Homo sapiens: one gene and its partner. Each later gene encodes a partner of the first gene's protein in a complex. Each region holds a gene or a part of one and is shown on either strand. Other genes may lie near its edges.

Region 1 (3,500 bases):
TTTTCCTTGTTCTTGTAGACATGCGTCGGGATGTCCAGGAAATTTTTCGCATGACCCCCCACGAGAAGCAGGTCATGATGTTCAGTGCTACCTTGAGCAAAGAGATCCGTCCAGTCTGCCGCAAGTTCATGCAAGATGTAAATACCCTTCTACCTTCTCTCCCTCCACTCCCCGCCCGCTGCCTCCTCCCCTTCCTCGCCCTCTTCCTCAGACTCCCTTGTCATTCAAGTGCCAAGAAGGCGGCTTGTGCCCAACTGGGAGTAATGACTCCTTGAAGAGACATACAGAAGCAGAGACAGCTAGTGTTAGGGCCTGCGCGGGTGCCAGGGAAACTCCGGAAGACTTGGTCGGGTTAATGTGAGAGCGGGTAGTGTTCGACTTTTTCATAAATCACAACATTTTTGAACCTCTTCTCCCTTTGGGGGAGGGCAGGATTTTTCTGCCCTACCACCCACCCATCCATCGTCTCTTACATGCACCCTACAGCCACGCACCCTCAAGGTGGCATCGAGCGTACAGCTGGAGCCTTCTGCTCACCAAAACTCCTACTTCCCGGTGGCAGGAGAGCAAGAGAGGGACAGACAGATGGCAGGGCATGTCCAAAAGAAGAGCATCAGCACAAATGAATCCTCCCCTTCCCCACCTCCAGGGGTGGGGGCCTTTGGCACCTCAATCCCCGATACCCTACTCCTTCCCACCCACATCTCCTTGCACCCATCTGGAACCTCGGTTGATGTGAGCCGGCAACAGAGAAGCACCGTGGCGCGGCGAGGGAATGCAGACGGCACCCAGCGGTGGATGGCGGCAGCGGAGGCCGCGGGGAAACCTGACCAGGAAGCTGAGGACCAAACCAGCCTCTTTTTCCGTTCCCGGTTTTTTTCCTGAACCCAACGCGTGCCGTGCCCCGTTTCCCCCAATATGTGTTGGGGAGGGGTGTCCTGAATGGGGTGGTAGATTTTTTTTCTTAAAAAAATTTTTTTGTTTTTTTTAATACTCAGAGGAGAGGGACATAGGAAAGGTAAAGTGGATGTAATCGGGTGGTTGTTAGGGTTTGGGGCTAGGTGGGGCCAATTGCATAAGCAGTGGAGTGTGTTCTTCCCCTCCCTGCAGTGTTCCTTCCCGTGGGATGATCACTCTTTAGCTGTATTTGGGGCTAGAATGAGATTTGAAGGAGGCCATGGAACTTCTCTTTAGAAAGCCTGCCTTGGCTGGGCCTGGTGGCTCACCTCTAATCCCAGCACTTTGGGAGGCCAAGGTGGGAGGATTGCTTGAGCCCAGGAATTTGAGACTAGCTGGGGCAGTGTAGTGAGACTTTGTCTCTACCAGAAAAACCGGGCGTGGTGGCGCATGCCTGTAGTCCCAGCTACTTGGGAAGCTGAGGCAGGAGGGTTTGCTTGAGCCCGGGACGTGGAGGTGGCAGTAAGCTGTAATTGTGCCACTGTACTCCAGCCTGGGTGATAGAGAGAGACCCTGTATCAAAACAAAACAAAAAACAAAACCTGCCTTCTGGGATTGGGCTTCTGGTTTTTTTCCCATGACACACGCATCCTTTCCTATTTTGTCCTCTGGGTCTTCATATTAACTATCTTCCCCCAGGATAGTATAAAAAGTGTTAGGAAAGTTGGGCTTTGGAGTTGTGGTAATTTCTGTCTTTGTTACTTTCCTCCCCTTCAGGGGGTTTTTTAATTTTAAAGATGAATGCAGTGAGGTATAATGGTGTGTGCCTGTAGTCCCAGCTATTCAGGAGACTGAAGCAGGAGGATCACTTGAGCCCAGGAATTTGAGGCTATAGTGTGCTATGATTGTGCCAGTGAATAGCCACTGCACTCCAGCCTGGGCAACATGGTGAGATCCTGTCCCTTAAAAGTGTATCTGCTGCTCTGAATTTGGTATTTTAACACCACTTACTGATACCTTTCCTGTAAACCTGTAGATGGTTTAATTCTTAGTCAAGAGACCAGTCTCATCTAAAACTATCCTGTTGTGGTCTGACGGCAAGTAACTCATCTTGAGTAATTTTTGTTTCTCCTTAAGTGGCATTTTGACTGTCCATTGCAGCATTCTGATCTTAAAAGACATCCACTTTGCTAATGCACACGAGATTCTCTTAGTTGAAGTAGGAGAATCAAATGGAGCAGTTGTCCTCCCCCCACCCCATGTTCTTAGAAGCACCTCTGATGGAGTTATTCTGACCTTGAGTCACTGCCTCCCATCATTTCCCAGATGTTTGGTCCTTGCTCTCCCTTTGAGAATCATCTCCCATTTTCTTTCCTCTCCCACCTCTATTTGAGGTAATGGCATCTGTGCCATTGGGTGGTTTCACTGCTCCTTGACTTCATTTGCAGTTTCTTTCCCATGATAGTTTTTAGTTGGGCAGTCTTAAAACTCATCTGATAGGAAGGAAATTAGATGTAATGTGAGAGAGACCACAGTAAAATGTGGGTATTTTTGGGAGTGGGGTGGGGTTTTCAATCTTCTCTTTCCTCCCCATCCCCCCATGGGGTGTATTGGAGATCAACTTCCTCCACCCCCCCAGGTTTAACCCCCCCACTCTGCCCTCCTCCCGTTCCCCACCCCCTTCCTCCCCCCCAGCCAATGGAGATCTTCGTGGATGATGAGACGAAGTTGACGCTGCATGGGTTGCAGCAGTACTACGTGAAACTGAAGGACAACGAGAAGAACCGGAAGCTCTTTGACCTTCTGGATGTCCTTGAGTTCAACCAGGTCAGTTAGACGTCCAGTAGGGGGATGAGCATTGGAGCACTCCAGCTGTAGCAGAAACCTGGATATTAAGTACACTTTTATTGAGGAAATCACATGTGTGATGTGGGAGAGAATAATGAGGGTATAAATATCTTAGGGGCTGAGCATGAGTAAGGTGGGAGCTGCTTTTCTATTCTATGGCTGGCACGGGTATGTCCTCAATAACCTCAAGGAAAATAAACTTCAAAAATTAAGATCCTTGGCCAGGCACGGTGGCTTATGTGTGTAATCCCAGCACTTGGGGAGGCTGAGGGAGGTGGATCACTTGAGTCCAGGAGTTTGAGACCAGTCGGGGCAACATGGCGAAACTTCATCACTACCAAAGAAGAAAAAAATTAGCCAGGTGTGGTGGTGTATGCCTGTAGTCCCAGATACTCTGGTGGCTGAGGTGAGAGGATAGCTTGAGCCCAGGAAATTGAGGCTGCAGTGAACTATGATTGCACTACTGTGCTCCAGCTTGGGCAACAGAGTGAGATCTTGTCTCCAAAAGTCCTTGAAGGATTTTAGGAAGTTGTTAAAAGTCTTGAAACGATGTTTGGGGGCATGTTAGGGTTCTTGAATGTTTAATTCCTCTAATAACTGCTTATTCAAGAGAAGCATTTCTGACTGGGTGCAGGGCAGTGGCTCATGCCCATAATCCCAGTACTTTGGGAGGCTGAGGCAGGAGCATTGCTTGAGCCCAGGACTTCAAGACCAGCCTGGGTAACATAGGGAGACGCCCGTCTCTACAAATAGTA
Region 2 (4,104 bases), on another chromosome or scaffold:
CTGGGTTCACGCCATTCTCTCGCCTCAGCCTCCCGAGTAGCTGGGACTACAGGCGCCTGCCACCACACCAGGCTAATTTTTTTGTATTTTTAGTAGAGACGGGGTTTCACCGTGTTAGCCAGGATGGTCTCGATCTCCTGACCTCGTGATCCGCCCGCCTCGGCCTCCCAAAGTGCTGGGATTACAGGCGTGAGCCACCGTGCCCGGCCAAGCCAAGATTTTAAACCCAGATTTGACCCCAAAGCCCCCTTTTCTCTTACACCAGCATTTCTCAACTCCAGCCATTCGCATGCCAACATCACAATTTTTGTCCTATCCATTAAACACTATACTTTTCTTTATTCAAGATTTTTCTTAAAATTGATTCAAAAAAGTTTACTTAAATAAATTTAGCAGCCAGCTGTGGAGGCTCAAGCCTGTAATTCCAGCACTTTGGGAGGCCAAGGTAGGCAGATCACTTGAGTCCAGGAGTTCAAGATCAGCCTGGGCAATATGGCAAAACCCGTCTCTACAAAAAATTAGCCAGGCATGGTGGCATGTGCCTGTAGTCCCAGCTACTCAGGAGGTTGAGGTGAGAGGATGGCTTGAGCCCAGGTGGAGGCTGCAGGGAGCCAATATTGTGCCACTGTACTCCATCCTGGGTAACAGGGCAAGACCCTGTCTCAAAAATAAAAATAAAATAAAATAAATAAAAATAAAATAAATTTAGCTTCAACTGAATAATAAATTCTATGTGCTAGTTCTTCTAGTAGACATTAAGATATTTGCAAAACTGGTTTTTAATGTTCACCCACGCATCACCTGAATCACTCATGGATCAGCAGCTGTATACTTGGGGAAAAACCACACCATTCCGCCTCCAGAGATAAGTCTTGTCAACAAAGTCCAGTGGCCCACACTGAACACATCAATTAAAAATCTCACCAACTTTTTCCATTCTAAAACGCATATTTTCTCACATTTTAGTATCTACACTGTATCTTAAAATGTATCAGAAAGCATTTCAAAATTTTGGGTGTATCACAGTTATTTACCAACTTTCTTTCCTAATGGAACATCTTACGATCAATGAAAACTCAGAGTCCCATACAATATCGGCCTCAATACTTACAACAGAGCCTATAAATGTACTGCACAACTTTCTCCCAGATCACCAAGACCATCCAAGTTTCAACCATTCTAACTCATCAGAATTTTCCAAATTCTCCATGCCTTTGCACATGCCGTTCCCTCCTGGAAATGTCCCATTCCCCACCCACAGCACCCTGACCACTCAACTCCTATGGCTACCCTAAAAGTTTGCTCAAATTTGGTGAGGCCTTCCCTGGCTCCCCTAGGCAGACTTTTGTTTTCATTTCTATTCTGGGTATCCACCTTGCAGACCTCTCCATTATAAAATGAACCATATCTTGCTATGTTATTTGTATATATATGTCTTCTCCCCGCAGGGGAGGTCCTTGGAGCTGGAAACTCTTATTCAGCTCAGGATGTCTCATACACAGCTGAGTGCCAAGCACAGAAAAGATATTCGGAAAATGGTTGTTGAATGAATCCAAACAGCTTATCTTCCTATTGCCCTCTCTCTGAATAGTCACCTTTAGTGTTCACAGTGGCAATGCATTTTGTAGTCCTCACATCCCAGATGCGAATGGTTTTATCTCCGGACGCCGTAACAAATAGGTCAGGATTACTTGGATGCCAACAAAGCTGGTCCACACTATCCCCATGTCCCCGATAATTGTTTTCTTTGACCTGAAAGAACAGAATCCAGATGTGACTTCACATAGATGTAACTGCCTCCGCATGTAACTTTATAAGCTTATTCAAACCAAAGTATGCTGGGACCAGTAAAGATCTGGGTAATTCAGAATCCAGTTCCTCCAAGCCCTTTCTCCCTTCTCTTCTCCGCAGGCCTTCTGAACTGTTTTTCTCAGCTTCCACACCTATGCCCTTACTTTTGTGCCCTCCCTGGCCTTCTCCTCCTTCCTGGTTTTCCACCCTTACTCTACCACCAACGTACCACCAACGTACCACCACCAACGTACCACCACCACCACCACCACCACCACCACAGCCCCTAGCCACTTCTTATCAGCACAGGATTCGACTCCAAACCAGTAAGGCTCCCATCGCAGCCCTGTCCCATCCACCCTCTCCTCACCTTCACCCGCCATCGCCAACCTCCTTACTTCCACACTCTTCACACGCCCCCAGTCTTCCTCTCCTCACCCCTCACGACCCCGTCACCCCCACACTCCACCTTCTCCCTACTCCCTCCTCATCTCCACACTCCCCCTTTCCCCTTCCCTCAAACCCACTCTCCTTTCACCCCCGCGGCTCCGTTCGCCCCCATTCGCTCTCCCACTACCGCACCTCACTTCACCACGGCCCCTCTCCCTAGCCTGAGCCGAGCCCCGGCAGCTCACCAACCGGTCCTTCTCCAGCAAGAAGACGCTGGCCGTCTTGTCGAAGGACCCCGAGGCTAGGCGACGCCCGTCGCAACTCCAGGCCACCGAGTGCACCTTGGCGCTGTGCGCCAGGAACTCGCGCGTCTTGCTGTGGCCCCGGAACAGCTCCTGCATCCCAAGCACGTAGCGCGACGGGCCGCTGCTCACTGAGCACCACGGGGCCATCGAGCCGGGGCCGCTCTGGCCCAACGCCGAGGGCCCCATGGCTGCAGCGGGGACCGCCATGCCGAGCTCCCCAGCTTCCAACTCACAACACTGCAGCAGCCTCCACGGCGCAGTCAGTCCTGGCGCCGCTGCCGCACGCATGCGCCCGGAAGAGCGACGGCCCCTCTGCGCAGGCGCGCTGTACCCCGCCCCGGAAGGGACTACAAATCCCGGTATGCAGCGCGTGCCCGCGTCTGCTTACTTAGTAATATTTGGTTCTTTTAACTCCAAATATGCTTCACACTTAACGATTCCGAGTTTTTTTAGTGTTCTTATTTCTCCCTTACCTATTCTTTGGTAGATATATGTGTATTCCTGTTTAATCGAATAAAAGAACCAACACTAACCTTCTAAACAGTTAACTCATCACCTTTCTTCTGGGGTTGTTCCGTAATCCCTAGTCCCCTCCCTTAAGAGCAGAAAGCTCTGGTCTTTTTGCTGGAGAAGGACCAGCTGGTGAGCTTGTCCCATGAAAAGGGCTAGCGGGTGTGGAGTGAGGGAAGAGGTGTTAAGAAGGGGTCTGGAGGTTTTGTTTTTTTTTTTTAAATAAAAATGGATTTTTTGTTTTTAAAAGGTAATGGCAGAGGCGTGTGAACCAGAGCAACTCTATCTTAAATAGGAACTGGGTAAAATGAGGCTTAAACCTACTGGGCTGCATTCCCAGACTGTTAAGGCATTCTAATCACAGGATGAAATAGGAGGTCAGCACAAAATACAGGTCATAAAGACCTTGATGATAAAACAGGTTGCAGTAAAGGAACCGGCCAAAACCCACCAAAACCAAAATGGCGATGAGAGTGACCTCTGGTCATCCTCACCTCTACACTCCCACCAGTGCCAGGACAGTTTGTAAATGCCATGGCAATGTCAGGAAGTTACCCTATACGGTCTAAAAAAGGGAGGCATGAATAATCCACCACTTGTTTAGCATATCATCAGGAAAAACCATAAAAATGCGCAACCAGCGGCCCTCGGGGCTGCTCTGTCTATGGAGTGGCCATTCTTTTATTCCCTTTACTTTCTTAATAAACTTGCTTTCACTTTGCACTGCGGACTTGCCCTGAATTCTTTCCTGAGTGAGATCCAAGAACCCACTCCTGGGGTCTGGATTGGGACCCTTTTCCTGTAACAGTATTACATGCACATGATTGTAAATATAAAAATAAAAGATATAGAGTGAAAAGTAAATGTCCACCTGCGTATCCACCCCACCTCTCATATCTCCCTTAAACCAGTGGCTTCTTGCTGGAGAAAAAAGGGGTGGTGAGCTGCCAGCGCCAGTCAAGGCCCTGGAGAAGAGCTGAGGGGGGAAGGTTTTGGTGGTGAGTAGTAGTGGTAAATGTGTTTAAAAACCCAATTTTTAAAAGGCAACACGTGCACTTGGTAACAAATGTAAAATGTATAAAAGGGAATAGATTGAAAAGCTTCCCTC

What was found.
Region 2: DDX39B (region 1) and THOC3 share a complex: the UniProt entries of both Homo sapiens proteins name them as parts of the transcription/export (TREX) complex.

What each region holds. Positions count from the first base shown.
Region 1 is NC_000006.12:31,532,004-31,535,503, reverse strand, and holds part of DDX39B (spliceosome RNA helicase DDX39B), read left to right. Parts: intron 1-18; coding exon 19-137; intron 138-2,592; coding exon 2,593-2,724; intron 2,725-3,500. UniProt on the Homo sapiens protein: Involved in nuclear export of spliced and unspliced mRNA. Component of the TREX complex which is thought to couple mRNA transcription, processing and nuclear export, and specifically associates with spliced mRNA and not with unspliced pre-mRNA.
Region 2 is NC_000005.10:175,965,516-175,969,619, forward strand, and holds the start of THOC3 (THO complex subunit 3), read right to left. Parts: upstream 2,801-4,104; 5' UTR 2,694-2,800; coding exon 2,427-2,693; intron 1,753-2,426; coding exon 1,596-1,752; intron 1-1,595. UniProt on the Homo sapiens protein: Component of the THO subcomplex of the TREX complex which is thought to couple mRNA transcription, processing and nuclear export, and which specifically associates with spliced mRNA and not with unspliced pre-mRNA.